Linked DNA regions of Homo sapiens: all the other regions are linked to region 2. Evidence: fine-mapped expression QTL. A gene starts in region 2. Each other region holds a variant in brackets. All regions are shown on one strand. Distances are from middle to middle. Region 1 overlaps PALLD (palladin, cytoskeletal associated protein). Region 2 holds the start of PALLD (palladin, cytoskeletal associated protein). Region 3 overlaps DDX60L (DExD/H-box 60 like). Region 4 overlaps PALLD (palladin, cytoskeletal associated protein).

The links.
Region 1: its variant is fine-mapped to the expression of PALLD in whole blood (TOPMed, PIP above 0.99).
Region 3: its variant is fine-mapped to the expression of PALLD in macrophages after interferon gamma (Alasoo 2018, PIP 0.95).
Region 4: its variant is fine-mapped to the expression of PALLD in whole blood (TOPMed, PIP above 0.99).

The regions. Positions count from the first base shown.
Region 1 is chr4:168,845,179-168,853,288 of GRCh38, forward strand. All of the region lies in intron 10 of PALLD (palladin, cytoskeletal associated protein), which reads left to right. It overlaps LOC102723331 (a long non-coding RNA gene), which reads right to left. Exons shown (of 2, transcript XR_007058358.1): 2 at 1-8,110. Among named protein-coding and RNA genes, the nearest start is that of CBR4, 160 kb to the right of the region's middle. The variant A/G (reference allele first, on the strand shown) is at 3,870.
Region 2 is chr4:168,492,393-168,500,502 of GRCh38, forward strand. It overlaps PALLD (palladin, cytoskeletal associated protein), which reads left to right and starts at 4,660. Exons shown (of 22, transcript NM_001166108.2): 1 at 4,660-4,802. LOC107986198 (a long non-coding RNA gene) reads right to left here. Exons shown (of 4, transcript XR_001741448.3): 2 at 274-493.
Region 3 is chr4:168,417,181-168,425,290 of GRCh38, forward strand. It overlaps DDX60L (DExD/H-box 60 like), which reads right to left. Exons shown (of 38, transcript NM_001012967.3): 15 at 6,428-6,594; 16 at 5,344-5,490; 17 at 4,580-4,729; 18 at 3,081-3,200; 19 at 2,122-2,217. Among named protein-coding and RNA genes, the nearest start is that of DDX60L, 59 kb to the right of the region's middle. The variant A/G (reference allele first, on the strand shown) is at 3,581.
Region 4 is chr4:168,793,707-168,801,816 of GRCh38, forward strand. All of the region lies in intron 10 of PALLD (palladin, cytoskeletal associated protein), which reads left to right. Among named protein-coding and RNA genes, the nearest start is that of PALLD-AS1, 150 kb to the left of the region's middle. The variant T/G (reference allele first, on the strand shown) is at 3,580.

The sequences.
Region 1 (8,110 bases), 350 kb after region 2:
CAAAGTGCCATGGAAAACATGAAAATGTGCTTTCTATCAAGGGATACGGTCAGAAATCGAACAAAATATTTCCTACCTGTCTATATCATTGGAGAAATTGTTCTAGGTCCTTTAAGGAATTTTAGGACCCTTACTAACACCTTTCTTCTTTTCCAATAGCATCATCTGTCTTAGATAATAGTTGGCCCTCTGGATCCCTGGGTTCCACATTCATGGATTTAACCAACCACAGATCAAAAATATTTGGAAAAACAAAACAAAAACAGTAATACAACAATAGAAATAATACAAGAAAAAAAGCAATATAGCATGACAGCTATTTATATAGCCTTTACATTAGGTATTATAAGTAATCTAGAGATGATTTAAAATATACAGGAGGATGTATGTAGGTGATGTGCAAATGCTAGGACATTTTTTTATCAGGGACTTGAGCATGTGTGGATTTTGGTATCCGAAGGGTTCCTGGAACCAGTCCCCCTCAAATACCGAGGGACAACTGTACTCACGAGACAGGTTGTTAGAGTTTAAGAGATTCCTAAATCATAAAACCTCTTGTAAAAAGGAAGACTTATACATACAAAGAACTCAGCTAGTCAAGACTAAGAAAGTACCAGTGGGAAGTAAAGCCACGGTTTTAAATAGTAATGTAATGAATGCTTCCCAAGGGCTTGAAAGTCGTTTGTCTTAAGCAGCACTTTTGCCAATTGTTATACTACTGATTTATTTGACAAGCCCCCTTTTTAGTTGTTAGTGAAAATCTCAGAGGTATCACAGATTTCAAATTAATGTGGTCTCAATCAGTGAGGCTTCCTCTTGCAATAATCTGAGATGGCAAGTAGCTGTTCTAGGATACCTCTTTTTGCTACTCTTCTGTCCCTTAACTGAATGTCATTTCAATACCAAGTCCTCTTCTCTAATATGCATTCAACCATGCATGTACAAATATTGACTTGTCCCTTTGCTCAACCCTAAGCCCACTGCACGCTTTACTATTTTCATTCTTACATAAAAGATCTAGAACAGAAAATAGATTGGAAGTACTATATAGATCCACTACATACAGTCAAGGGGAAGTCTCAAGTTTTCTCATGTTTCCTTTTATAACGTGGACAACTGAAAGTTAAATATGTCCGTTTGATATGGGTAATTTAAGCAGCTATAGGTACTTGGTGATTATTGTAAACCTAAGACCTTAAATAATACATAAGGAATCAATTTCAACACTAATAACATCTGATCAACAAAGAGTTCCTTTTATAAGATGAGAACGGCATGGAATTATTTCTAGTTGCCTTAAATGAATTTTAAACACCCGTTATGCGAGGGAGAGTAGGTATGGTCTGTAAGAGGAACTCCAGGAAGCCCATGTGGAATTTTGCAGTTTCCTCTTTACAGGTGACCTGTTAAACAGCCTGCATGTCATGGTAGTGAGATGTAACAGAAAAGCTATGTTAATTAAGGTGACTGATTACCATTCAAATACATGTAAATCACAGTCTACCCAGAGGAAGATAGGAGTCCTCTAACTGCAGGCTTCTTCCGAAGAATTAAAGGGCTTTCTGAAAAGCTGAGGCTCTCAAAGTGTGGGTATGGTACCCACACTGGTGGTGTCAGCATCACCATCACTGGGTACATGTCCATGGCATCCAGTGGGTACCAGGACATCCATTTCTTACCCACTACTAGAAATAAGCAATTCGCTTACGGTTAGCAATATTACCATGAAAAAATGTTAATTTGACAATATTGAGACCAAAGCAAAACAGAATTTTGATATTTGCTAAAAAAGAAAAGGCCTGAAATTAGTGGGCTGGTTGAAAGGGGACTGGAATTGCAAGCTGCTCCCATCTGCCATTCCAGCTTTTAAGGCTTCTTAATTGAATTGGAAGCTCAGTTGAAAAAAGAAAAGGATCATCTATTCTTTCCTCTGTTTTCAGATAAAGTCCTAAGAACTTTTTTGAGGGCAATTTATACCCATTAAAATGTCAAATTCACATATCCTTTGACCCAATAATCTCATTTCTAGACATGTTTGCCACAGAAAACTCAAAACAAGTATACAGTACAAATTAGTTGTACAGGCAGCTTTATTGCTACACTATTTGCACTAATGAGTACTTGAAGAGAGCATGTCTATCATTAATAAAGAATGGTTTATACTATGGAATACTATGAGGCCATTCAAAAGCATGAAATAAACCTTCATGTACCAACATGGAAGGATACCCATGATACATCGTTGAAAGATACAAGATCACTGAGGGAAAATGTGCATATGCTTCATCCAACTTTTGTGAACAAAAACCCAAACATGTAAACATATGGGTGTTGTAAGTATTTATATTTGTATAGTAAAGGTTCTGGAAAGATAGCACCAAGATTTTATTGGTGTTTTGCCCTGTGGAGTGGAATTGTATGAGGATTGGTGGTTATGTGGGAAATTCTTTACATTTACTTTATTATCGTACTACTTTCACTTTATTTTTTAATTAATATTTTATCTTTAATTTTTGTGGGTACATAGGTGTGTATATGGGCTATTTGGATATGGACATGCAATGCGTAATAATCACATCAGGGTAAATGGGGTATCCATCACCTCAAGCACTTATCCTTTGTATTACAAACAATCCAGTTATACTCTTATACTTTCTGATACTTCAGTTTCTCACAATGAATATTCCTTTTCTAAAAAAGAAAAAAAAAGGAAGAAACTAAGTCCCAGGCATATTAAGAGAGAGCTAATTAGCTGTAGAACTAATTCTGACACTCTATTTCCCAATCAGTATTATTCAGAATTATTTTTTACTTCCCTGTAATAGTTACTCAATTTTAGAGCCAGAATTTAGCCTAATCTACTCATTTAACCTCTAAGAAAACTGAGCCCAGGGGGTGCTAAGTTCCTGGAGAGTGGTCCTCAGGTGGTGACTGAGGACTGAGTTAGCCTCCTCCGGCAACCCTACCCCCGTCCCACCCCACCCCACCCCACCCCACCCCTGGGCAAAGTGAAAGTGAAGCAAACTGAGAGGAACTCCTCCACTGTCCCTTCTGCTTACTCAGCAGATGGGAGCCAGCCACTTTGTTTTGTCCTGGGGCCTGTCCTTGATGGCTTCTAAGACTAAAAATCAAAGCTGTAAATTTGTGTAATTTAGAGATTGAAGGTACTGATCGTTGTTGTCAGTGACTGGAAACCAGGCCTATTGAGCAAGAGCCATTGTTCAGTGCCTGTCAGCCCAGAGAGTGTGCCGAATGCACTGGCCATCTTAGACACAGATCTACTTGGTGGTGTTCTGTGTTTTTTCTCCTAAAAGAAGGCTTCTCACACCACCACTGATGAGAAAACAATTCGAGGAAAACGTAGGCACACTCAGTACATGAAGGGAGACACTATTAAAAGCAAAAAGAGGGTTATTGTCAAACTTAGAACGATGCTAATTTGAGTTCTGAGCTCTAAAACTGGTAGAATTCAAACATTAAATGTAGAATGTACTAGTATTCTATGCCTTAAACAGTTGAAAGGAAAGGCTTACATTGGCAAAATGTATTTCACACCAAATAATGATCCTAAATCAGTCTTTTGCAACGTCATAAGATGCAGCTTTGTAAGTATACTTTATTTCTAAACTTTACCAATCTCAAAGGCTACCTGGAGCTCTTATTTCTGAAATAATTTCAAGATGTTCATTCTCTACAGTTTTGTGGTATGATTAACTTCGAAGTCCACTGCAGACACAAATGAACTTTCCCTAAAATGCAACACGAGAGTACTAACTACAGTCAGTAAAGATGAGAGGGGGTTATTTTGTAGCTCTTCCTGCAGGCTGTGAGAATTTTTTTCGTTAAAAAATTCGTTAAAAAAGCAGGAT[A/G]TACTGCTTCAGTCCTTACCATGAGAGCCACTCCCATCGGAACATAAATTAGTCTTAGTATATTTCAGGTTCTCCCACATGTTCACATTCCAACTGGGTGCAACAGTTGACTTTTGTCTTTAACTTTCCTTGGCAAACCGATAGCATCAGAGGAAGAGATAAGCTGCCCCTTAGGGAGCTGATTGTAATGCGTTCCAGACGTCTGCACGCCCCTGGTGCAAGCACCAGCTTTCTGTTAAAGACTCAGGGTTATGTTGTTTGGATGTTTTGTTGTTTGCTTTTTGAAAAAGCCAGATCAGATTTTTGTCATTGTATAAACTCCAGTAGGAGAAGAGGGATGCGTTTTTAAGGTGATTTCTAGAATGCTCTGGCCGACTTAGCTGCAGAAGAAAAAGGAGAAAGGAAGAGACAGTGTATATTTTGGCACTGAAACTTCTTTAGTAACAATGCATTCATTCACAAATCTGGAGAGAACTGAATGTCTGCTTTTTAAAGTCTGAATTGAATTCTCGACTAGACTTTGAGACCCTGAGAAGGTTTTCAATCCAAACCATGCTTAATATTCACGTTTTATCATTATTGATGGAAAGTGAAAGAAAATTTGAATTCTTGGTAGCCAGATTTGACATTAGACTTTTACATTTATAACCTCACTTAAACTTTACAAGAAATCTCATTACAGGTATTATTATCCCCATTTTTAAAGCAAAAAAAAAAAAACACTGACCCTTGGAAAGAAGAACTGGCACTATTGAGATTCACACCACGTGTGGCTGGCTGCATCAGGGGGCTCATAAAGAATTCAGAGCTGGCCCCCAGCTTATCTTCCCCATTCCCTCTTCTCACCCCCAAGCTACCTCCATTAAAAGAGATGCCAGGCTATATTTATTTTATTATGTATACTTACGAATGCATTTGCTCATCTTTGGTGTCATAAAATACAATGAATAAACTCCTATCCAGTTTTTCAGTGTATTTCCTTAATTTTTAAAGCAATAAACTCCTTTAATCCTCCCTTATACTCAATACTAAAAAATGAAAGATCTGATTTTAAGCAGGAAAAGTTTTGTCTTAGCATATAGCCAGGAAACTTCATCTGCCTAGGTCCTGAAATGTAAGTGATCTGCCAGAACCAAGCGTGGGGGTAGCTCGCGAGGCCTCAGCCCTCCTGCTCCTGTGTGAGAGTGCTTTCTTCTGCAACCTGGCTCCTGGAAGGAATGAATGCTCCCCCTTCAGCCCCTACTCCCCACCAAGAATTTAAAAGATAAGAGGGAAACATTTCCCTGACTCTAAAATGGTTTGTTTTTAATATGGTATGTCCAGGCCTGCACTACTAAAATCCTTCATAAAAGTCCTCTAGAAGATAACGATTGTTCACATTGCAAACCTGTTTGAAAAGCCTGGAAAAAATGCGGTATACTGTAGGGAAAGTCAGTCTCCTTTTCTCACTTATATAATTTGTAAGTCTGTCATTTCTTTTTTTTTTTTTTTTTTTTTTTTTTTTGAGATGGAGTTTTGCTTTTGTTGCCCAGGCTGGAGTGCAATGGTGCGATCTTGGCTCACCACCTCCACCTCCCAGGTTCAAGCTATTCTCCTGCCTCAGCCTCCTGAGTAGCTAGGATTACAGGCGTGCACCACCACACCTGGCTAATTTTTTTATTTTTAGTGGAGACGGGGTTTCTCCATGTTGGTAAGGCTGGTCTTGAATTCCTGACCTCAGGTGATCCGCCCGCCTCGGCCTCCCAAAATGCTGGAATTACAGGCATGAGCCACCGCGCCCAGCCTAAGTCTGTCATTTCTAATATGCTCTCCTAGTTTTAGCTCAGTAGTAGCTGAGTATTATACAAAATAAGCTCTTTTTACTGCTGCTTAGCATGTGTCTGCGAACCCTAGCTCAGTACCTGGCATTCCATGGGCAGGCAAGAAAAGTTTGCAGAATGAATTAATCTGGCCCAAGTGTGACTGAGAGGCCAGAGGAGGTCAGTGGGTGCCGTCTCCCAGGCCAGCAGCACACACACAGCTTCCTACAGTCTCCCTTCTTGTCTTTGTCTCTTTACATCCTCTTCCCTTCCTCCCATGTGTCTCTAACCTGCCAATTGCACCAACATTTATTCCCTGCTGCAGAGCCTGTGGACCCACAGTCTGGCTTACCTTTATTTTCTCCATCTCCAGAATATGTCTCTCCTCCATACCCCCATAAATTAAAAGTGACTTAAATATATAAAATGGAAGAGAGAGGCAGGATAAAACTGTTTGATAACTTAATAGTACAACTGGCCAGTCTCTCGTAGATTTTTTGCATTCATTCCAAACCTGTTTTTTGTTTTGTTTTGTTTTTGAGACGGAGTCTGGCTGTTTCACCCAGGCTGGAGTGCAATGGCGCAATCTCGGCTCACTGCAACCTCTGCCTCCCGGGTTCAAGCAATTCTCATGCTTCGGCCTCCCTAGTAGTTGGGACTACAGGCGAGCACCACCTCGCCCAGCTAATTTTTGTATTTTTAATAGAGACGGGGTTTCACCATGCTGGCCAGGCTGGTCTCGAACTCCTGACCTCAAGTGATCCACCCTCCTTGGCCTCCCAAAGTGCTGGGATTACAGGCATAAGCCCCACGCCTGGCTGAAACCTGTTTCTATTAAAAGACTTATACCTTGGAACTTTAATAAGTAATTTATTAAAGAACCGTTAATATTAGACATTAAAATAATTATGACTCCCTTACCCCTATTTGATAAGCATATAGGTGACGTTACACTAAATACTATCCCTGTCTGCCAAAATAATCTAATGTTGAAGCAGTCCACCGCATTTCAGGTCTCCTGGAAATGTGCTGCGATTTTCTGAAAATTAGAGGCAACAACTTGCTGTTGAGGACAGGAAAAAAAGAGGAGGCTAAGACGCAAGGTCCTCTGAAGCTTCTGCCAGCTCTCTCACCAGAACCTAACTCTTGATACCAGTGGAGTGAATCTGGAAGTCTCCTGCCTTCCTGAGTGAGTTGGAGACGTAGACACTACCTGGACAGGCTGGAGAAATGAGGGACTTAAAACGTAGCACACCCCTTGCCCCATGCCACCTGACTAGAAATGCCTGCCAAAGGTATATGGACATGCAAGGCTGGCACAGATGTAAAGCTCAATATATTAAACTAGATAGCAAAGAAATATACACCAAGCCCAGCAATACAAAGCACCCTGCCTTCATGCAGTTAAACATTCTTCTGTTTTAGGCCACACTGTACTTGCTGGCTTCATGTGGCTTCATGAAGGCAAGTGCTGTGTCTGTTTTGATCACTACTAGATTTCTGGCACCCAACATGTAGTAAAAGCTCAATCAGTATTTGTTAAATTCATTGAGAGAGCTGGGAAAGAAGGTAGAATGAAAAGAAAAGAAAAGAAACAAACAAAAACACAAGCCTGGGCAACATAGCTAGACTATCTCTACAAAAATTAGCCGGGTGCAGTAACTCACACCTGTAGTGCCAGCTACTCGGGAGGCTGAGGCAGGAGGATTGCTTGAGCCCAGGAAGTCAAGGCTGCAGTGAGCCGTGACTATGCCACTGCACACTCCAGCCTGGGCAACAGAGTGAGACCCTGTCTCAAAAGGAAAGAACCATCCACAAAGTTAGTAGTGCCTACAAGAGTGTAGTTGCTCTTTAAGCTTGAATTTTTGGTTATTTTGCAAGAGGTATTATTTGCCTTAAGCCATGGTAATTAGATTTATTCTGCTTTGTGGGCTTTTAGATGAGTTAATCGGCTACAATTTCTCTTAATTCCCTCTAATGCTTTCTAGGTGTGGATATCAAGAAACCTACATGTTGTGTTTAGAATATTTTATGTATCACAGATATCAGTGGGTAGTAGACTTTGCACTGGAATTGCCCTTTTCCCTGCCTCAGTTGTTTTTGGTAATATTAACTCTTTATTTACTGTTAAACTTTACAAAAAATGTCAAGTTTACTTTTTAGGACTAATAAATTAGTTTTCATAATTTTAGCCATTTAGGAAAAACAGAAGAAACCACATTGCAGTGTAAAGGGAGAAAAGTCACACATAGCTAATTATTGATAGGAAAATGAGAAGTGAGATAGCAACATCTGAGAGGACTTCATATATGAGCATCTCACAGAGTAACTTTTTCTTTTAGCCAGCATAATTACTAGCTTTTCCCATGTGTGTACAGACATTTTTTTCCTTAGAAATTTTGGCCTTAAAAGTCAAATACAGGTTGTTTTACAGATGATCAA
Region 2 (8,110 bases):
CATAGATTTTGTTTCCAGACTATCTCAATTCTACTTCTATTACCTATCATCATAAGATTATGTTTCTCTCTTCATTTTTGTGCATATGCACAAGTTAGCAAACATCCCAAGTAGCAGAAACATGTGACCAAAAGATCACCCACAGGCTCAGGCTACATTTATGCAGATTTAATCACAGTTCATAAAATCGAGCTCATGAGGGACAAATCTGGAGTTCCCTGCTACGTACAGATAGATATACCAGTTTAATCAGACAAGTCTTTGGGGCCATACCTGATTCTGTGACATGTACACAAGCCAGATACAAAGTATGAGGAAGAAGTAGAAAGACTGGTCGTGGCTTGAAAGACACTTGTTCCCAGGATCCCCAGATGGACCATTGGGACAATTCTGCAAGTGTTTCATGCCTCCAATTTTAGTGTGTTCCTTGATCAGCCTTCTCAATTACCATTTTCTCACATGCTCCGTGATCCTTGTTTCCTGGTGGTTGACGCTGGGAATGAAGAGAGGAATAAAAGTGAAAAGGGAGTAAGTAGACTTGTTTCTTGAAACTTAGGATTTTCAAACTTCCTGGATCGTAAGAAAAAGAAAACGTCCAAGGGGGATGAATGAGCAAGTCTGCTGCATTCCTTTGCACACCCCTTTCATCAAGGAAACTTTGAATACCTTTACTTTTTCTATTGGCTGCCCAAGAGTTTGTATCTCCTAAAACAAAGTTTGTAAACCAGTATCCTCGATTGACCTGAACCTGGGAGGCAGACTGATAGATAATCTCAAAACAGAGTGATCTACAGCCTGGAAATTCTGGTGAAGAAGAAAAATCAGTGTATGAGAGAGCTAGAGGAAGAAAGTTTACAGTCAAATAACATGTTTGAACGTGCAGTTGTGAAAACAGAGCATGCCCCAATGTGGCTATAGGACTGATGGGTTAAAGGGAATAGAGGTGTGGTAGCCAACTGCCAAGATGACCACCAATGCATTGTCTTGCCAACTGGTTTTTACGCCTCTATGCAGTCTCCTCCCACAGTGGATACTGCCAATTTGTATAACTAAAGGATACTGCGGGAAAGACGAAATATGACCTCCAAGGCTGGATCATAAAAGATATAATGGGGCCGGGCGCGGTGGCTCACACCTGTAATCCCAAAACTATGGGAGGCTGAGGTGGGTGGATCACCTGAGGTCAGGAGTTTGTGACCAGCCTGGCCAACATGGTGAAACCCCATCTCTACTAAAAATACAAAAAAATATCTGGGCGTGGTGGTGGGCACCTGTAATCCCAGCTACTTGGGAGGCTGAGGCAGGAGAATCACTTGAACCCAGGAGGTGGAGGTTGCAGTGAGCTGAGGTCATGCCACTGCACTCCAGCAACAAGAGCAAAACTCCACTTTAAAAAAAAAGACATTGTGGCACAATCCAGCTGCCATGAAGCTAGGAAACTCAGGCAGTGACACAGAGAAGTCAACAGGGTTCCAGCCAATAACAGGACTAACTTTCCAGGCACGTGAGTGAGCTGCCTTGGAAGCAGATTTTCCAGCCCCAGCCATGCTTCCACCTGAAAGAAGCTGGGGCAACATCTTCAGTACTATCTCATGATACCCTGATCTGGAATTACCCAGCTAAGACTAATGGATTCCTGACACATAGAAACTGTGTGAAATAACAAATATATATTGTTTTAAGACATTAATTTTTGCAGTAATTTGTTATGAAGCAGTAGATAAGTTATATCTGATTTTGGAGGTGGAGGAGGTCTGTTTGTGTGATCTGTAAGAGGAACAGAGATGAAGATTCATAGAGAAAAGCAGGTCCAAAACCAATATGCCAACATATAGAATAGACAAATGGGTGCTGAGTCACCCAGAATAATGGCAGGGTGTGGAGTGAAGAAGAGAACCAAGAGCCCAACTAGATCCAAAGTCTTAATTTTAAAAAGTGGGATGGAGGATGGTTGATGCAAATATAAGTGCTTCAAAAGAGCAGGAATTTCTATAAGAAGAAGTAATCATTTGAAAGCTGAACTGGAGCCCCATGAAGGAGCCACAGACTCCCTTTCCCAACCTTCGTGCACACAGAAATGGGCTCTGGTGGAAAATATGAAAGTGCATGAGAAATGATATTACTGTCCACACACTAATCTCATCCTTAATATCAACTGGACCTTGCTATACTAACTTAAGAGTGTTGATCAAACTTTCTAAATTTTTTTGATGCCAATTTTCTAAGGAAAAGAACTTCTTATAAGATTTTTAAAACAAGCTTGGTTTGCTGCACTATTTGCAATACACACACAAAAAGGTCACATTTCTGTGTCCTTTTGAGTAAAGTCATATCCATCTTTGAAGCCTCTCTCAGGACCACAAGCTGTTTTTTTTTCTTTTTTCTTCTTATGGCTTCATCACTTCACTGGTGTTATACCAGGATTTAGGAACCAAGCAATCCAAAGAAATGTGGGAGAGGCCTCGTCTGGCCAGTAGTCCAACATGATTGCCTCTGGAATTCACCATGAGACTCACAGTTCACCAGAAGGCAGAGGCAAAAATCAGAGTTGCCAATTAAAATTATTTCTAAAGATGGGTTCACTGCTTCCTATTCCCAAGCCTTTCTGAGACTCCATGGGGTGAATCACTTGCTTCTTTTCTGTATCTCCTCCTGCAGGCATTTAAGCTTTGTAATTTAGTTACATGCATACTTATATTTATCTCTTTCCAACAATTTTGTTCATTTCTGATATCTTCTATTGTCTTCCCTCCCAATTTCTGCCCTTTTCAGTTTTTACTATTATCTTGTGGTTTTAGGAAAAAGCAGATATAAATATGTGTTTAAGCAATGCTATGGTTTGAAGGTTTTTGTCCCCTTCAAAATTTTTGTTGATTCCTAATCCCCTATGCAACAGTATCAGGAGGTGTAACGTTTAGAAGGTGATTCAGGAGGACTCCTCATGAATGGGATTTGATGCCCTTAGGGCTTGATGGAGGAAGTTTGACCCCCTCTTGCCCTTCCACCTTCTGCCATGTGAGGACACAGTGCTCAAGGCATCACTGTGGAAGCAGAGACAGGAACTTCACCAGACAACAAACCTGCTGGCACCTTGATCTTAGACTTCCCAGCCTCCAGAACTATGAGAAATCAATTTCTGTTCTTTGTAAATTACCCAGTCTGTGGCATTTTGTTATAATGACACAAACTAAGACAATCAATCAGAGTTATATTTCCTTGTAAGTATAAATTTTATTTTTTTATTTTTATTTTTATTTTTTTTAAGAAGGAGTCTCGCTCTGTCACCCAGGCTGGAGTGCAGTGATGGGATCTCGGCTCACTGCAAGCTCCGCCTCCCGGGTTCACACCATTCTCCTGCCTCAGCCTCCCAAGTGGCTGGGACTACAGGCACCCGCCACCACGCCCAGCTAATTTTTTGTATTTTTAGTAGAGAGGGGGTTTCACTGTGTTAGCCAGGATGGTCTCAATCTCCTGACCTCATGATCCACCCACCTCGGCCTCCCAAAGTACTGCAATTACAGGCATAAGCCACCACGCCCAGCCGTAAGTATAAATTTTAAAATCACTTCTTAATTAATATAATAGATGAAATGACCCACAGAAGTATCCACTCACAGAAAGGACCATTTCTAAAGGACCAGTTTGGCCTATAAAGAAAATACAATAGCAGACCTTCACAAATTTTCTAACATCAGAAAAGAAAAAATATTTAGATATTAAACTGAATCAAATGTGATGGTCTTACCCAGACAAAGGAAGACTCAGCACCCCATTTCCAAGTTAACTGGGAGCTTTTGTGTTGCTCTTTTTGCCCCCCTTATATTTGATTCTGCTACCTGACCTTTAAACAGAAAAGCTTTCTCTTCTTGCTATCTATGTTTGTTATTTAAAAGATCAAAATATTAAACTCTTGCTATATCTATTTGTCATTTGAAAGATCAAAATATTAAATGATTGTGAAACATTTTTTGCAACTGTAAGAGGGTTGATACTTTTCCTGAATATTATTCATTCAACATTCATTTATTTCTTTGACAAATATTTAAGAGATGCTCATGATGTCCTAGGCATTGAGCTAAGAACTCAATGTTGCAATGTGGATAAGATCCAGTCCCTGTGTGTTCATACTTATTTAATACTATTATAGACAAGGCCTTTAATACATACCATAGTCATATATCAATTTTTAATTAGCAATATGAAATAAGAGAACAATGGGACTTTCCACTCAATTTGACAGGTGGCTAAATTTTCAGTTACTGAATTTACTATTTTAGGGTAATCTAGCACATGACCAAAATTTAAATGCACAGAACAGAAGATCAGAGTAAGAAGAGCTTCCATTTGGATTATCACTTTTTCTACTTGGAGTCACATACTGTACTTTAAATTGATTAAGAACATGTTAAAGGTCCAGGTGGTGATTTCCAGCTACAAGTCCAAAGTATAGAAGAATGTGTTTAAATCCTACGTTTATCAGATCCATAAATATAGTTCCTTCTATGTTAAGTGGCTTTATTTCTAAGAACCCAGCCCTCGGTCCTGGGGGTGCTTCCCAGCCCGCTGCTGGAATTCCTGATCGTGGCAGTCTGCTGAAACATGAGCTCAGTTACCAAATATAGCTGAGTGGAGTAAGAGGACAGATGAGAGTCTGAGGCCACAGTTGCCTCAAAGTGACCACGGACCAGGCAGTCTCTAATGAATAGGCAAGGCCACAACCTCCATTCTCCCAGAAAAGAAGAAATGCTCATCTGAAATTCATCACCTCTCTGGAGTCTTCAAACTGACCAAGCATTGAAAAGGTCTGTAAGGTGTATCTTAATATACTAACTAGTAGGGCAACATTTTAAGGACTTAAAAAAAAAAAAACTAAAAATACAAAAGTTTTTCTGAAGATATGATACTATTTACAAGATACCTTAATTATTCTTTTGCTTGGAGAGGAAACGTAATGAGAATGTTACGGTTTTGCCAAAAACAGATAATACGTAAGATTTGCCTGCCCACTTCATCTCTGCCTTTGCTGTCAGAGAATTACACTTTCTGTTATAAGCTTAAGCATGCTAAGATGGTGCTATCAATTCCAAAAGGATTAAATGTATTTATGGAGCCAGCTTTTGTCAAGATCGTGTATGTGTTATGTTTCACAGAAAAGGAAAACGCAGCTTTCTAGACCCTCACCCATATTTAAGCTAGATAAGTGATGATGGCTTAAAGTGATAGACCTTAGATTTCAGTAACATTATAAATTGTTAATTACACTTTCAAAAGATTCTAAAAGTAACTCACTGGACATAATTAAATGAGTTGGGATAGTAACAGCAGGTATTTTAAATTATATTCATGCATAAAATTTACATACATATTTTTAATAAGATAACGCTTACTAAGGGAAACCACAGTGCAATCTCGAGTCCAGTCAAGTTTAAACATCACAGAATAATTTTTATCATGTTGTTTTAAGTTGCACATGAAATTGTCTTGAATCCAATATAGGAGGTTGACATAAAATGATTTCAGGCTCATATTACTTATTAACATTTGCTAAAAATACTAATTGCCTTCTAGTATGAATAATGTGGTGACATATAAAGCCATTTCTTGGCAATATAAAACTATTACAAATCTATTCAATCACATATATGCAGAAATTAAATCCTCATTTCATGATAAATGTGCCTTCCAATGTTTTTTCTCACAGAAAGAACTTGAATACTCACCTCAATTATTCAGATTTTTTTTTCAGATTTTTAAAATCAAAGTCTCTTTGACAAGTTATTGCTAACAGCAGAAAAGGCCGATGAGGTTTATCTGGCCACTAACTGCCCTGTAAATACATGATTACACATTCCTAGAATATAAATTAGTCCTCTGGCATCCTAGAATCTGGTATGGATTAGGGTCTGTATCCCAGGGGTTCTGTGTCAGCTCTTCCTCTGGGTTTCTCTGTTATTGCTAGAGCTGAATATTAAAACTGGCCTTATAGCATATTTCACAATAGAATGAGGATCTGGATTGCACTGGACAAGTACAATCACTTTGACCTCCTTACCTCATTTTTTAAAAATGTAGAGGGCAATCATTATTCAGGTTTAAAAATAAATATGACAAGTTCTTTAAGAGATACCAAGTGGAATCTGCAAGGCCCAGACAAGAGCTCCACTTCTTAAACAATATGTGTGTGGAGGCTGTCAAAGGGTATTGCAATTACTGAGCTCCAGTTAGAAATTCAGGCCATCTAGAGTTAATGACTGTGTCCCGGTGAAATTACAGCAAAGAAAACAAAGATTGAACAAAGTATCTTCGACTAAAATTTCTAACTGTTAAATCATATTAGAGAATATAGAAGCAAATTTGGTAAATAGGTTTTGAATTTAAGTGAGAAGAATAAAGCCCTGAATTGGATAATGGTAATGGAAATGGATAATTCAGAAGTAAAATCTAAATATTTGCAATGGACTCAGTATGGTGAATAAAGTTGATAAGATGAACAGGACATGGGATAACTTCAAAAACTCTGTAAAGTATCTTATTTGGCTGTTTCTGCATTAAATGAGCTATTAGATTATGTCCTTGAAATTGAGATTAAATAAGCTGTTTAAAGAGATATTTAAAACTGTAGGATAAATATATCTGCCTGCATTGACAATTTAATAATTAGAAAGGAAAATAATCCATGTGTATTTATTAAGAAATAAATTATAAAATTGTAGTGCATTTTCTGCATCAAACATAAAATTTCATAAAATTTTCGTGTTTGACTTTTGCCCTAAAGGACCCTTTGTAGCAAAAAAAAAAAAAAAAAAAAAAAAAAGGAAGGAAGAAAGAAAGGGAGACGGGGAAGAAGGAAGGGAGAAGGGAGGGAGGAAGGGAGGGAGGATGGGAGGGAGGATGGGAGGGAGGATGGGAGGGAGGAAGGGAGGGAGACATGGAAGAAGGGGGAAGGGAGGCAGAAGGGAGGGAGGGGGGAGGGAGGAAGGGAGGGACTTTATTGATTTAGTCTAGGGGGGTTGCCTGTGATTCTGAAGCATGAAAATTAAGTGTTAAAGCTTTTCTAACTTTGGTTTTCATAGTTTAGGTTTTATTAAAAGATATTTCAATATCTAATATTTGTATCAATGGTTTGCATTACTTTTTTAGTAATTGCTTAAATATGAAAATAAAACTGCTAAACCTAAAATTAAAAATCACTTATAACTTTTTTTCAAAAATTACAAAATAAGCAACAAAAGATCCCCCTGCATGTCCCACCTTTCAACTCCTACCCCTGCCTAAATCCCCCCACAGAGGTCAGTGTTGATTGTTTGGTGTATGTTATTCCAACCATTTTCATATATTTATTCCTATCTATGTATACATTTTTAAATGACTATGGGAATTTAGCTATTCCACCTGGACTCTCTAAAGAATCTGCTGAATGTGGTACATGGTATTAAGTGATCCTTACTGCCTGTCAATGTTTTTCTAACATCAAACTTTTTCTTTCAAAATTGTAGCAGTTCTTCATCGACTCAAAGTATTTCACAAACAGACTTCAAAAGTTTTCCCCTTATCTAAATTTTTAAAGTAATTTCCTATAATATCTCCAATGAGAGAAGAAAACTTTGCAGTTAAATGCAGGCTTCCACCCTGAGTCTGCCACTTTCTGATGGCTCAGGTTGGGCCAAATAATTGAAACTTTTTCTGCTGCAGTTGTGGGTAATACAAACAATAAAATAGAAAAATAACATCTACTACATGGATTGTTCTGAGGATCAAACTGTTCACTTTTGAAAGCAGGTAACTTCCAAGCTGTTATGTAGGAACAACTTGCATTGTCACTGAATTCTTTCTACTTACTAGACTCTGCTCTTTCTCATGTATATTCCTTGTCTTCCCCAAGTTCCTCCACGTCAAAGAAATCTGTTGTAATTTCAACAGTCAATAGTGCCTTGATTCATGGGGATCATGCCAGGGGGTGGTCCCATAAGTCTTGTTTGTTTGTTTTTTGAGTCAGGGTCTCACTCTTTTGCCCAAGCTGGAATGCAGTGACCTGATCATCGCTCACTGCAGCCTAGAACTCTTGGACTCAGACAATCCTCCCACCTCAGCCTCTGGAGTAGCTGGGGCT
Region 3 (8,110 bases), 75 kb before region 2:
TAGGCTACATACCTAATTAAATCCCTACACTGTCCTCCCAATGCATTTACAGTAAACCACAAGCTGCTTAACTGGAAGTGTAACTTCCTGCATGGTCTGGCTTCTTCCCACCTTTCCAACCCCATCTCAGGCCACTTTCCCCGCCATGCACTCTGCTCCCAACATACTGGCCTTCTTTTCATACCTTGAACACACGTGTTCCACCTGAGGGCCTTCACATATACGACCCTGCTACTTAAAATCCTCATCCACCTCTTAGCTGACCATTCCTGCTTATCCCTGCAAAGCCCAGCTGAAGGTCATTGCCTCAGAAACACCTTCCCTGAGTACCTGCTCCAAAGTTGTTGTTCTTACTTCCCATTTTGCTATTATCTTGGTGAAAACTAACTGATTTTTTTTTCTTCAGAGTTTGTATCACAATGTTTACTTATATTTTCATTGGTACATTTACTTATTTAATTGCTCTCCCCTTCACTAAACCACAAGGTCAGTACTGGCATATCAGGGAGAAAGCACAGTGTCTAGCACAGAGTAGGTACTCAATTAATATCTGTTGAATGAATGAATCAATCCTCTTTGGTTCAATAATGCAAATTAAGACTTAGAGAGGAGGTCCAAATTTTGGTCTTAAACAGAATACATCGTGACAATTGGGTCTCAGCTGGAAAGACTTACTAATCAAGGCTAGTAATAAATACATAAAGAAGAATATTTTCATATCCCTTCTGACTTTGATCTAGTCAGATAATCGCCCACTTTACCAAATGCTAATCTTATATTTTGTATCAGCAGGCAATTTCTCTGAACTTTCTAGAATAAACAATTTTTAAAGCCTTCTTACAATCAAGTTTTGTGCATGTATAAATCAGAAAACCAAAGTTACCCACATTTTGTTTTTTGTTTTGAGATGGAGTTTCGTTATTGTTGCCCAGGCTGAAGTGCAGTGGTGTGATCTTGGCTCACTGCAACCTCTGCCTCCCGGGTTCAAGTGATTTTCCTGCCTCAGTCTCCCGAATAGCTGAGATTACGGGAGCATGCCACCATGCCTGGATAGTTTTTGTATTTGTAGTAGAGACGGGGTTTCACCATGTTGGTCAGGCTGGTCTCGAACTCCTGACCTCAGGTGATCCACCCGCCTCAGCCTCCCAAAGTACTGGGTTTACAGGCATGAGCCACCACACCCGGCCTCATTACCCATGTTTTAACATTATTGTGCTTAGGCATTTTGAGATGAGACCACAATCCAAGGTTCTAGATCATAAAGATCAAGGTTTTTGTTTTGTTTTGTTTTCCCTTAAAACGGGAATGTTCAAAGTCAGCAACACACAATACAGCCTGATGCATAAAAGGAAACAGACTACTTTCAGCACAAAGAAAGCAGAATGACAGCATGTCTACCAACTCTCAACTTCACACAAAAAAGGAGTAGATTCACTACATAGGTTTATCACCTAGTTTTCCTTTAAGTTGAAAATTCCTTGAAGCAACAAAATACAAAGCTTGAATTCTATTTACAGTTCTTTCCATTCATTTTGATAATAACATAGCTATGTCCTTCCAGATCTACACCATTCGCCACCTTCCTCTCTGGCCAATGAGTCTGACCTTGGGAATTGGCTCACCCAGCCTCCTTAGCCCTCTAGCTTCTACTGGGTTTGGCCAGTGGGAAGCCTAGGCAAGAAATGGGAAGGAGAGAAGACAGTGAGGTCAAGGTCTTTATTCTTTTGCTCTCTCTCCCTAAGAGGTCAACCTTGGCCAGCTGCATTTCTTCACCAAGGTCACTGTTCTTCTCAAAGAGACATATCTATAGAATCTCTCTTCTGTTAAGGTTCATAATGCTTCCCCCTCCCTTCATCCTTACAGGGTTGAAAGGCTTGTACTATTCTGGATTACTGCACTTACCTTGTGGTTTCCCTTGTACAAACCTTTGTAAACAGCCCCTTAGTAAAAACACTTTTCTAAAAATTGTACTAACGTGAATATGCAATCTGTTTTCCATTGGTACCCTGGCTGACGCACAACTTAACTGCCATCATTGAAAAAGCCCTATATTCTTTAAATTACAAATTATAGGGTGTATGCAGACTAGAACATCAACCAGAGAACTAACACCAAACCTACCTCATCAAATATAACATATCTGATCCTTTCCACCCATTTTTGGCGATGAGGAGCAAGCAACAGGATTTCAAAACATTCCGGCACTGTAATAAGTACCTACAAATATGAATGATTAGTGTAGCTAACTTTATGGAGCATTAATTTTATATCAGGCATAGTAATAGGAACCTAGAAAATATGCTGCTGCTGATAGCAGTTTCATTAAGATAATATTGCATCTTTGACGTTTTTCATTTAAGTCTTTACATTTATGAACATTTGGATTAATGAAAATGAAAAAGAGCTTCTACTCTGTAACGACTGTTTTACATTTTGTTTAGTCTTAAATGTCTACTTTGTGAATTCAATAAGGGAGACAATCTATCTTAATCTATGATTTACCTATCGACGGGTCCACTATCAACACACAATCTTTTTGAGACAAGGTTTTATTATGAGGATCCATAAATATCATTCAAAAGAACTAGCAATTTTGAATGGAAAGAAAAGGTTGGGTAGTCATTTAGTAATGCATTGGGTTTGTTAAATCTACTTGAATCCCTTTCTAAGTTATACTGAAATATCATAATCTTCTATTTGAAATTTCAGATCACAATGTAAGTATAAATATTGTTCACAAGACCTAGCAATTTTGAATGGAAAGACAAGGTTGGATAGTCATTTAGTAATGCATTGGGTTTGTCAAATCTACTTGACTCCCTCTCTAAGTTATAATGAAATATCATAACTTTCTATTTGAAATTTCAGTTCACAATGTGAATATCCTTAGAGATGGTGAGCCTAGTTCTTACTTTTTAGAGTAGAACAACCTTAAATTTTCCTTAGAGCAATTTCATTTTCTTTGTGAATTCAGTGAAATGATTTCTATAAGGGCTTGTGTTTTGCAGATTCCCAGCAAAACAGTTATATAAGTACTGCTCTATAATTTGATAATAAACTCATTAATTAATATGTCATACCTGACAGTTTAGTACATTGTGACAATAATCTCTTGTAAAAGCACCGCATAGAGTTCTGCCGGCAGGCAACGTTTTAGTAAAACGATTCTCAACAGTTGCAGCCACTTGACCAACAAGGGACTGATTGACAAGAAAAAAAACCATTAGTCACTTAGTAGAGAAGAGACATATAAAACCTTGAGGACAACCGAATCCATACACATACACACACACACACACACACACACACACACACACACACACACTTCAATGAAAATGAAATGAAGTAGGGAAAAATACAGATGGTAATGAAATTATCTGATACCACTGAGTATTCTCTTTGATCCTCCTTGATTTTAAACACACACACACATACACACACACACACACACACACACACATGAGATAGATAGATAGATAGATAGATAGATAGATAGATAGATAGACAGACAGACAGACAGACAGATATTACATATCATGTATATGGTGACAATGGGCAAATGAATGACTTTCTATTGAAT[A/G]TCTGGTTCATGATTCCAGGTAAACCACCATTGCTCTGCCTGGGATCCTCCTAGTGCTCTCTCTGCCTGTGTTTGTCGGGATCCTTTCTTATTTAAGCCCCTGCAACTTGCTGCCTAAAAGAGGCAAAGAGCCCATGTGGCCTTCTCTTAAAATTTTCAGCCCCTAGGATTCCCCTTCTATTGTTCTGAGCTTAACTATAATTATATAAAAAGATGTTTGGTGTCTCTTATCCAGCATTTCAGGTATTTTACACAAAGAGATTTTTCTGTTGACCTATATGGCCATATTGCTGGAAATGGAAGTCATATATACCTGGCTGTATTTTTTAATTGAAACAATATTAATTAAAAGAAAAACATAAATCTTCATAATTATAATCATAGCATACCACTCCAAGGGAGGGAGGGAAAATAAAAAAGGAAAGGGGAGAGAGAAAGAAAGAAAGGGAAACAACTTAAAATGTAAATTTTTAAAAAATTAATCCTTAAAAATACTATAGTCATCATTTTTATATTCATGATAGTGAAATATTTTCTAAAAATAAGTATAATTGCAGTAACTATAAATGAAAATATTAACATATGAGATGAAATAAAAATATCAAAAATAGTTTCTTGGCCGGGCACGGTGGCTCACGCCTGTAATCCCAACACTTCAGGAGGCCAAGGTGGGTGGATCACCTGAGGTGATCAAGACCAGCCTAGCCAACATGGTGAAACCCTGTCTCTACTAAAAACACAAAAATTAGCCCAGCATGGCAGCACGTGCCTATAATCCCAGCTACTCATGAGGCTGAGGCGGGAGAATCACTTGAACACGGGAGGTGGAGGTTGCAGTGAGCCGAGATCGCGCCACTGCACTCCAGCCTGAGTGACAGAGCAAGACTCTGTCTCAAAAATAAAATAACAGTGAATTAGATCTAGCATGTGACCGTGTGCATTCTTTTTAAAGGGGATGTTCAGGAACAAAAGCAAAAATGAAAGTCATTCAAACACTACCTTTGCGGGTGCAACGTACACAACCACCCCGACATCGCTCTCCCTCAGCACTTTCTCCATGCAGTAGTAGGAAGCATAGGTTTTGCCTGAGGACGTTGGGGCAACAATCACTGCTGACTCATTCTTATCTACCACATCCAGGAGTTCCTGCTGCAGGGTACAAAGCACCATTTGTGTCAAGAAAGTGAACAGCATGTTACCAAAACACAGACAGTATCCTTTGTACCTTCTGTCTCCTGTGCCTGTATTATGCTACCTTTGGGGGAACTCCCTGAACCCCTGAAGATTAGGTCTGGTGAACACTCGAAGGATTCAGGAAAATACCTGGATTACTCATGCCATTCCCTCAGAAAAGAGATTTTGTTTTACATTTTGGCCTAGAGAGAGGGTTTCATTTCTGCAAAATAGAAAGGGAGACTGAGTAAAACATATTTTTCCATTAGAAAACACTTTTTCCAATTGTCATTGAGTAAGTACAGAAAGAGGTTTCCAAAACTGAGCTGTAAGAACTAGTAATGCCACATTAGCATGCCTTCACATACAAACAGGTATCAGTATAACTTCCACTGATGGTGAAAATAAAAAGGCCAAGAAGGGGAAGAAATGAATGATTTCTCATACTCTAGTTACATTCTCCAGGCACAGTAGAGGAAAGACATTAAACAAGATTAAGAAGTTTATGCAAAATTTGACATGTAGAGACACAGTAATGAAAAGTTCTGAAGTCACACTGATTAGAAAAGTACAATGTTTGTTGTCATTACCTGCCATGCGTTGGGAATAAAATCCTGGACCCTGGGATCCCGATCTTTTCTTTCATCTCTTATCAAGTAATGGCCCATGTATTGCAGTTGAAACCGAGCTGGTCCAATGTCAATCGAATATTTCTTCTTATTTTTGTCATCTCCTATCTGTTATTTTAATATATTATTTGAAATCAACTTAAACTTCAAAATTGAATAAACATTTATTAAATATCCACTGAGCACATTCTATGCACAAGGCATTTTTACTACACTTTTTTTTATTTTTTTGAGACAGGGTCTTTCTCTGTCACCCAGGCTGGAGTGCAGTGACGCCATCATAGCTCACTGCAGCCTTGAACTGCTGAGTGCAAGTGATCTTCCTACCTCAGCCCCACCACTCCCTATCCCATGCCCTGGCTGAGTAGCTGGGACTACAGGCACATGCTATCAATTGTGGCTAATATTGTGTGTGTGTGTGTGTGTGTGTGTGTGTGTTGTAGAGACAGGGTGTTGCCATGTTACCCAGGCTGGTCTTGAACTACTGGGCTCAAGTGATCTGCTCACCTTGACCTTCCAAAGTGCTGAGATTACAGGCGTGAGCTACCATGCCTGGCCTACTATGCTTTTAAATAGTGTAATATTTAAGTAAGAAGAGTTTTCCTGCCTAAAATGTTATTCTTGGGAAAAGTCAAATAGCAGATATTAACGTTAAAAAAAGTTCATCCTGGAATTGGAACCTGGAACCTTATTAAAGACCATTCTTCAATCTCACTACATTACAGTTTTTAGATTGCACTAGAATTAAGTATAGGATTCATTCCTGTTACCAAGAGGGTTTAAAGTGGCATCTGGATATCATCTAGTATTTAATTTCTGTTTTCAGGAAGCATCTGTACAAATTTTCTAATTTTAATTTACTTCAAAGTTTGGCAGCTAGGTTATTAATAAGTAATCTCATATCTATTATTTTATAAACTAGAATCAGAGTAAACATAGTCAATTGATAACTCTATATGTGAGATACTTCATTAGACCTATTAGTTATTCTTCCATATTAAAATTGAGTAAAAATTTAAAGTATAAGAAATTCTAGTTCTCTTACCAGAGTTGGATCCAAAGAGTTTGCCAGATCATTAAAGCCTAAATATTTAAGGCATTTAGCTATATATTGATGATGTTCTGCTTCCAAAATTTCTGGGTATCTCTCCAGGAGTGAATGAATCCTTTTCATCATTTGAACAGCTATACTTAAATCTTTCGAAATTTTGCCTTGTTAAAGAAACAATAAAATTGTTATAAAGAACACCAAAAATAACTGGTTGATCACTTACGACAATCATTGAGTTAATCAATTAACCTCATGTGATTAAACCTCACTATTTTACTTGACTTTAAAGGAGATTTTAGAGCATTAAAAACTAAAACTCATGATTAAATTAAATTAAAACTCCATCTACACACATTTAATTATCATCTTAAGTAACTTAGACATAGCTGGGTAAGTATAGGCAAAAAAGAAAAGAAACAAACTTTGTGATTTATAGCAGAAATATGAACCATTTAAACTGAGCTCTGTACTCATTTCCAGAGAAAAATAACACAATAACCCACATATTATTTGTGTGTCTTCTACTCTTGTTCACAGGAAAAAGTCCTATGATTTTAGATGCCTGACCAAAACATGAGCAACATTTATCAAGGCCTACTCTTGACCACATACAGTACTTGTATTTATGAAACCATCAGCAGAACCCTTCAATTATTGAGGGCTAAGATACAACCTCACTGCATCCCAATCATTCTATCCAGACTCTCCTAAGCCCTTCTATTACCTCCTGTTCACTTATAGCCTCTTTATCTCTATCCCACTACTAACCACTCCATATAAAGTCATATAAAGTCTTTATCCTCTTTCCTCTTTGTTAAGAAATATCCTCTTTCTTAACAAATACTACTGAGCAACTGCTTATGCAGACCACCAATGTATGCTTTAAGGAAGTACAAATGAAATTTAAGACAGAGTTCTTACATCAAGGAACCTTCAATCTAATTGGAGAACAAGGGATTAGTGTTGAAACAGATCAGTAAAATATCTAAGTGATTTACAATTCAGGGTCCAAATGGAGTCATAGAAGCAGTGTTATGTGAGCAGGAGAAGTTGGGAGGACTCCACAAGAGGATGGCCTTGAAGGACACACAGAATTTAGGCCAATAGAGACAAGCAGAAGAACATCTGTAGCAGAAACTGATATTACCTCCTCAACATCCATTCTCACCCAATGCTTTCTTATAAATCCCCATACTAATGGATACTGCAATAGGTCCAATTCAAAGTTCACATTTTCTAATCTCTCTGTGGTTTGGTGCGGTTTTGTTACTAAGTTTGGCCATTGAGAAGTAAGCAAAAATTGGTGGAATTTCTGGGATGAAGCCTCCTTCCATAGAAGAAATACAGCATGAATGTACAAATTTGCCCTTTTTCTTCTTCCTACTTTGTTTTGGAATACAGTTATCATGGCTGTAGCATCAGCCACCAACTGCATTCATGACATAACTTTAAGAATACAACTCATGCACTAAGAACGGTACAATACGATGATAGCGGAGCCTAAGTTCCCAGTGACACTGAACTGCCTATCTCTGGACTTCTTTTACATGAAAGAGAAATAAACTATCTTTTTTAAGCCATTATTAATTCCTATCTCTGTTAATAGCTAATGGCAATTCCTATCTGATATGGCATCAAGTAAAAACACATATGCTAAAGCTTAGAGATGAAAATGAG
Region 4 (8,110 bases), 300 kb after region 2:
AGATACGCACAGGAAGAGCACAGCCCATCTTTCCCTCCCACAGTCGTTATCTCCTACCCTGTGGTTCTTTCTCTGCACTGGGTGAAATCCCAAGAGACCTCATAGCTTTCTAGTAGCTTTCAGATAGAAGTCTTCCCATCAGAAACAGATCATTCTCAGTATAGTAATTAAAATCTTGTCTGGTTCAGTCATCTAAACTTGGGTCTAGGCCTAGGTGAAACCTCTCCCCACCCTCACACTATTCCAGGAAGGCCACGTTCTGCCTAGGGTATCCACCGGGGAGGCACAGGGTTGGCCTCCTCTCTGGCTGTCCCCAGCTTTCTAGGGGCTGTTTCTCCTCTAGGTGCAGTGGCACGGCTCCTCCCGTCCTCAGCCTCGACGGAACCCCTTTTCCAGGGGTTCTCCAGGCCCGCTCCTCCAGCTGCCCTCTCAGTTAGGTTCCCTCCCCCTGCAGGATGGTCCTGTGGATGGAGTTCCTGTGATAGTGACCCGGTAGGCTCCTTCCAGGCCCACCTGGCCTGAGGCGAAACTCCTGCATGCCCTATGGCCTGTCCTCGGGCAGTGAGAGTGTCACCCTCTCCCACCTGCCTGAAATTCCAAGGGACTTACTCAGGCCCTCTAAGGGGTCCTCTTGAGGCCCTCCCACTTCACTGAAGGTGAGGGGAAAGCAATCCTCTCCTCCCCCAGGGTGGAAGACACAACACACATGCGCACACGCATGCGCGCGCACACACATAGACATACGCGCAGCGCACAGACGTACGTGCACACGCACACACACATGCACGCACACACACACGCACACACACACACACACACACACACACACACACCCCTCTGGCTGCCTCAACCCCTCTTTCACTAGCTAGAGGGGTTATCAGTGGCCAGGCTAGCAGAACTGATTTCTGGCTCTGTGGACATAACCTACACGTCCGTCTTTTAGCCTCTCGGTATGGTGGCTTAGCCCTTTCCTTCAGTGGGTAGAGTGTTCAGCATCTGTCTTACTGCTCACAGCCTGTGGGGAATCAGCCAAAAGTGAGGCTGAAAGAATTGCCATGTAATATCTTTAACCCTGTGCTTAGTAAATAGTAAATGCTCAATGAATATTAGCGATCATTAGTAGTAGTGGTAGTCATAGTAGTGTGTTTTCTTATGGTCTTACTCTGTTTGGGCTGCTGAAACCAGCCATTATAGACTGGGTGGCTTATAAGTAATAGAAATGTATTTCTGCTAGTTCTGGAGGCTGGGAAGTCCCAGATCTAAGCACCAGCAGATTCAGTGTTTGGTGAGGGTTGGCTTCCTGCTTCATAGAAGGCTGGCCTCTCACTGTGTGCTCATGCGGTGGAAGGGACCGGGAGCTCTGGGGCTAAAACTCTCATCCATGAGAGTTCCACCCTTGTGACCTAATCACCTCCCAAAGGTCCCACCTCCTAAAACCATCACGCCAGCAATTAGGATTTCAACATAAGAATTATAGGGACACACAAACATTCAGTCTTTAGCAAGATCTCACAATGTCTGCACTATATATAGCTTTACCACCATTTGAAAAGTACAATTCCTGTCAGTGTTTTTGGTAACCCACTGTTGTGAAATCAATTTAAAGGTTCTTGAGTGGCAATTTGAAAATGAAATCGAAGAGTAGAAAAAAGAATAGAAAAATCAAGAATGCATAATAGGTGTTGTTTGGAAAATTTGTGATTTAAGATAATTAAGTATATATATGTTGCCATTTTAAATGTATGTATTATATTGGTTGCTGTCAACAAAATATGAACGCTACAGCATCTGAGGTTTTCCAGTTGTCCACCACAATGATTAACATGTGAGAATCTTCCTGAAAAAGTTCAATGATTAACATGTGAAAATCTTCCTGAGAAAAGTTCCTATGTGGATGAGCTCTAAGGAATGAATATAGAATGTTCTATTCCCCACAGGTCTCTGCAGTGAATACAGTTAATTGGGAGCTAATCATGAACTGCTTTATATTTTTCCCTAATTGTCTTTTTTTTTTTTTTTGAGACAGGGCCTTGCTTTATCACCCAGGCTGGGGTGCAGTTGTGTGATTATAGCTCACTGCCACCTCACATTTCTGTGCTCAACAGAATTCTCCCCCCTCAAACTCCCCCGTAGCTGTGACCACAGGCAAGCACCACCACATCTGGCTATTTTTTGTACTTATTTTTTTTTATGTTTAATGTTTGTGGGTACATAGTAGGTGTATATATTTATAGGGTATATGAGATGTTTTGATACAGGCATGCAATGTGAAATAATCACAATGTGAAATCATGGAGAATGGGGTACCCGTCCCCTGAATCATTTATCCTTTGTGTTACAAACAATCCAATTACATGCTTTTAGTTATTTTTAAATGTACAATTAAGTTCCTATTGACTATAGTCACCCTTTTGTGCAGTCAAATACTGGGTCTTATTCATTCTTCTATTTTTTTGTACCCATCAACCACCCTCACCTCCCACCTTGCCCCCCACTGTCCTTCCCAGCTCTAACTAATTTTTTTAGTATTTATGGAGACAGGGTCTGCCATCTTGCCCAGGCTGGCCTAATTGTTTCTTGAGAATAATTGTTGTATCCCCCAAACATAAGGAGGAGAGAAGTCGTTTTACATTTCTGATGATGCTTTCTCAGAGCCCAGTGCAAAGGAGAACACCAGTCACTGCTGGCGGGTGTCTGACATTCAGTTTGGCTGTTTCACTTGTCCTGTGATAGCTAACTGATCTTGCTGTCTCATCATGCATTATTTGCACGATTGGCAGTTATTAAGGTACACCAGGCTAGAAGGGAGTCCATCTGGCTCTCCGCTGGGCCCTGTACTCTTGGCCCAGGATCTGAACCATAGCCTATGCTTAATAAATATTTGTGGAATGAGTAAGAGGTTCCATCTATGAGATGAAAACCACTGGTGGCTGATAAGTATTCAAATGGCATATCTTCTGTAAATGTTACAGAACGTCAATGCCATTAGGTGCTTGAAGAGAAGTTTAAAAATATTCATATGCAGGAAATGAGATCATAGAATTTCTCATAAAAATGCAGTTTGATCAAATTGAGGGGATGGATACCCACTTACCTTTTCATAGTAATAGTAAATTTGTTATAGAAAACACATTTTACCTTCCTTGTCTCCTAATTCGAGGTCATGTGAAGCTTAGCTAGAAGGAGCAAAGTACATTTTGTTCTGCCTGAACTGTCTCTAGTGAATACAGTTACCCTGGGCTTTATTATGAATACCTGGCCTGTTCCACAAAAGCAATGAATAGTGCTTCAAGGAAGAAATTTTACTTGTTTTATTTCCCAAGAAACTCACCAAATTGAGTTGTCTCTACTTTCCTTTCAAAACTATAACTAAGTACAGTAGTAATGTCAGGTCACTTATGATTTTGACCTGTGCCAATCTTTGAATATTTGAACATTTTTATCTCCTGAAAAATTACTTGGCTTGAGGGAGACACAGTTGGATGAGCAAAGAAAAAAAGAAACAATCAAATGATTTTCTGATGCTTTCGAATGTTCATAGGCTTGCTTTGAAATCCCTCTGTCTATATCACCCCATCC[T/G]GTTTTTGACTTCTAATCTCCTTTACCAAATACTATGTAGCAATATTTTGTGAGTCATCCAAAAGTTGAGTATATTTAGACCACCGTGACAATCAAACAGTATAAACAGAACTACTCATCTGTCTGTTCATCATCATCCCACGCAGGGAGTTAATTCCTAATAAAGGAGTTTATCAGATCACCCTCAATTACATCACTTTGGGATAATTTCATACCCAAGGAAATTTGAGGCATTTTTGCCTTGGAAAAGAGCAGGTGCCTTACGAAAAAGAAACTAGATTTGTGAGAACTGGGCTTATGTTTCAAATTTATATTCTCAACTTTACTCTGAAGAGATGGCTTGGAAGAAGTGACGGTAACACAGAATTGCCAGTTTGCTTGGCAAGGTCAAACTATTCCATATGTTACCTTGCAAGAAAAATATGTTAATTTAAAAAATATCAGAGACCAAATGAGAAGTTGAACACACAGCTGATTTAGCTCAGATTTTTGTTTGTTGTTATACCGATTGCCATATTAGCTCCCTCTTCTACCACCTCAACCCCACCCCCACCACCATACAGCTGCTCGCTTGCTCGTTACAAAGCATATTTCCCCCTGTATATTAATGTCATATTCAGCAAATCAGGAAATTTTGCAACTTCCCTTCTGATCCTAATCTGGCTATTTTTCTTGAGTTCAGTGTCATCAAATCAGAACCAGACACTTTTGTTAAGGGTATCACATTCAAAATTGCACACAAACAAGCCCCACCTTATTTTTATGAAAAGTCTGCCCAGTTACCCGCTTTGTCCCGACACTAATAGAGCCAAGGCTCAGGGTTTGCAATGTAAGGAAATGTGGAGTACATTCCAGCATGCTTTCTATGATGAGTAGATGTTTGATAGTACACCTCACTTATCTGTGCCTCCCCAGTTGGGGAGCCTTTTTCTTATCTAAAAGGCCTTGCCATATCAAAGGTAAGGATACTGTTTGGTAAATTCCTCTAAATAAGAATGCCACTAGGAGAAATTTAAATTATATGTAAAGGAATAAAAGTTGAAAAATAAAGGGTTTTTTGTTTGTTTGTTTTGAAAAGTTGGTTTCAAACTTAAAAATTTGCAAGTGTCATTTTCTGAATTGTGGAAATAGAGTAAAATTTATCATTTCTTATAAAGTTTTAACATTAGAAAAAAAGCTTCTTATGACTAAAACTAAGGCATTTGGTAAAATTTTCTTACCGCTTCTACTATAATATCTATTTCTCTTTAGATAGATAAAGATACAGATTTGCAGTAACATTGGAAAGTAAGTGAAAAACACAGAGGAAATTAAAACTTTACTATAACCTACCTGTGTAGAAATAATCACTGTTAATTTTAATGCATAAATATAAATTTTTAAAAAGTGGAACCGTATTGTAAACTGATTTTTATCCTACTAAAACAAACATTAAGTATCTGCTGAAATGTTTTAAATTTTTTCAAAATATATGTATTTTCTGACTCATTTGCTATAATACTTAACTCATTGCTGCCCATGTAAACTTGAACTGTCTCATTTGTTAAAGCGTGAGAGAATTCATAGTTAATTCTTTGTACAGCTAAATTGTTCAGTAGGAAATGCAGAAAGAAGTGTTAAAAGAAAATCTTCAGCCAAATTTAATTTAATTTAAAAGAGTTTAATTGAGCAATGAACGAATCATGAATCGGGCAGCCCGCAGAATCACAGCAGATTCAGAGAGACTCCGGGGGTGCCTTGTGGTCAGAACAAATTTATAGACAAAAAATAATAATAATAAAGTGACGTACAGGAATCAGAAGTGAAGTACAGAAACAGCTGGATTGGTTACAGGTCAGTGTTTGCCTTATTTGTACACAGTTTGAATACTTGGCAGTGTGTGAGTGGTTGAGGTATGGCTGCTGGGATTGGCCAAGACTCAACCACTGTTACAGATGCAAACTTTTAGGCTGTCAATCTTGTTTACCTATTAAGTTAGGTTGCAATTCATCCACAAGGACTCAAATACAGAAGTATAGAGTCCTTCTCAGGCCATATTTAGTTTGTTTTAACAGACGTAGAAGAGAAAACCCTTGTTCTTTGCTTTGTCCAGGGTAGTCAGCTGATTGGAAAGGTAACCGAAGTCTCTCAACATCAAAACATTTCTAATGCAAATTCTTTAAGTCGTACTGTTCCTACTCACCTTGAACTTATGAGCAAATCCCTTATCAATTGTGCTACCTTTTATTCAGATAATGAATTTGGGAATAGGGTTTGGAATTCAAGTCCCATAGCTTAGAAAAGATTGAGTACCTGGCAATTCAGTATAGTTGTGGATTGCAATAATTCCTGTGCTTGTTAAGTAACCAAGATTTTTGTGTGTGTGCGAAAAGCATGTGTAAAATAATTGACAATCAGCACTTCTGTTGGATAGATGGGTTCCTGAAAGAGCATATGTGAATAAATTTTGGTGTATCTGATGCTACTTTCCTGTTAAGCTACTATGGAAATTATCTTAAACATTATATTCTTTTCCCTGAGGCAGAAAATGTAAATAATACATTCCCACAGGTAACAACTATAACTATTTCCTATGTATGTTTTCAAAAATGGTTCATGCACTTACGAGCATTTGTGTACTGTATGTATTCATGCACTTATATAGGGTACCCTAAGAGATGATTTTTACATGAGGGCCTATCACACTTACATATTCTTACTTCTTAAGGGAATTCAAAGGTAGATACTTTGTTGTCCCTAAAAAAGGTACATGAAGATCTATTTCCCTCTTATCAGAGGCAGGCTTCATATCTGTAGTAAAGGAGAAAAATATAGAACATTTGCTTTAAAAGTTCCTCTTTTTATAAATAATACTTGCTAACTTTTATGCTTCTGTTTTATAAGGAATTTCTTCCTTGTGCTATATACAAAAGTTGCTTCCAGGTGGATTAAACAAGGCATAAAAAGATAATAAAGGAAAAATTTGATAAGTAGTTCAAATAAAAAAATTCTGATCATTAAAAGGCACCCTAAGGAGTATTAAAAGACAAGTCATAGGGTGGAAAGTATTTGCAACTTATGTAGACAACACTGGACCAGAATATGTGGGTTACAAATGGAATAAATAAAGAACTCGTACAAATCAATTTTTAAAAGCTACCAGGCAATAAAAAATAAATAAGTGAAAAGTAGAACAGCCACTTCACCAAAGAGAGAATTCAAATGGCTAATAAACATGAAAAGATGTTCAATCTCATTAAGTAATAAGAAAAATATGAATTAAAACAACAGAGATACCATTACACACCCATTTAATTGGCAAAAATTTAAGCCTGATAATACCAAGTTCTGGCAAGGATGTGAAGTAACAGGATATTTCATATACTGCCAGTGGGAGTATAAATTGTTAAAAACCACGTTGGAAAAGAGTTTGGCATAATTTGATAAACTCAAAGTTATGCAAACTCTATGACCTAGCAAACTTCACTCTTGAGTATATTTCTCAAAGAAATGCTTACATACGTGCACCCAGAGACACGTAACCCAAATGTACATAGCAGCCCTGCTCATAATAACCCCAAACTGGAAATATTCCAGAAGTCCATCAACAGTAGAACAAGTAAGGAAATTGTGGTAGAGTAATTCAATTAAATATTATTCAGCAATTAAAATAAATGAACTATAGCTAGACGAAACAACATGATAAATCTTACACACATAATATAGAACAAAAGCATACAGACAAAAAGAATACAGTCAGATTCCACTGATATAAAGCTGAAAAAGGAGGGAGAAACCAAGTACCTTGCTCAGAGATGCATAACTGAATAGTAAAGTTAGAAAGAAAATCAAGGAAATGATAACTCTGCAAGTCAGGATTGCGGTTACCCTGGGAAAACCCAGGGGTATGAGGGGGAGGCACACACAGGAATCTTCTGTTCTATTTTTTTACCTGAGCAGTGGTTACAATCTGGGTGTTTGCTCTATAACTCTTTGTTAAAGTGTAAAATTTTTTTGTTTGTTTGTTTGTCTGAGATGGAGTCTCACTCTCTTGCCCAGGCTGGAGTGCAGTGGCACGATCTTGGCTCACTGCAACCTCTGCCTCCCGGGTTCAAGCGATTTTCCTGCCTCAGCCTCCTGAGTAGCTGGGATTATAGGCGCATGCCACCACACCCAGCTAATTTTTTGTATTTTTAGTAGAGACAGGGTTTCACCACGTTAGCCAGGATGGGCTCGATCTCCTGACCTCGTGATCTGCCCGCCTCGGCCTCCCAAAGTGCTGGGATCACAAGCGTGAGCCACCACGCCCAGCCTGTAAATATTTTTTTAAAAGACGTGCAGATAGAAATTATCTTAAATAATTGCTTACAAGACAAAGAGAACGACCTGCCCCCAAGTCCCCCAGATAAAGTAGGATATCACTAAGAATCCACACCCAAGTAAAGTAATTAAAGGGGTTAAGATGTCTCTCCTTTTGTGATTAACACCCCGTCGTGCTTGCAGAGGCACCGCTGGGTGTCAGGGAACCTGCCTGCTGCTCACCTGAACACCC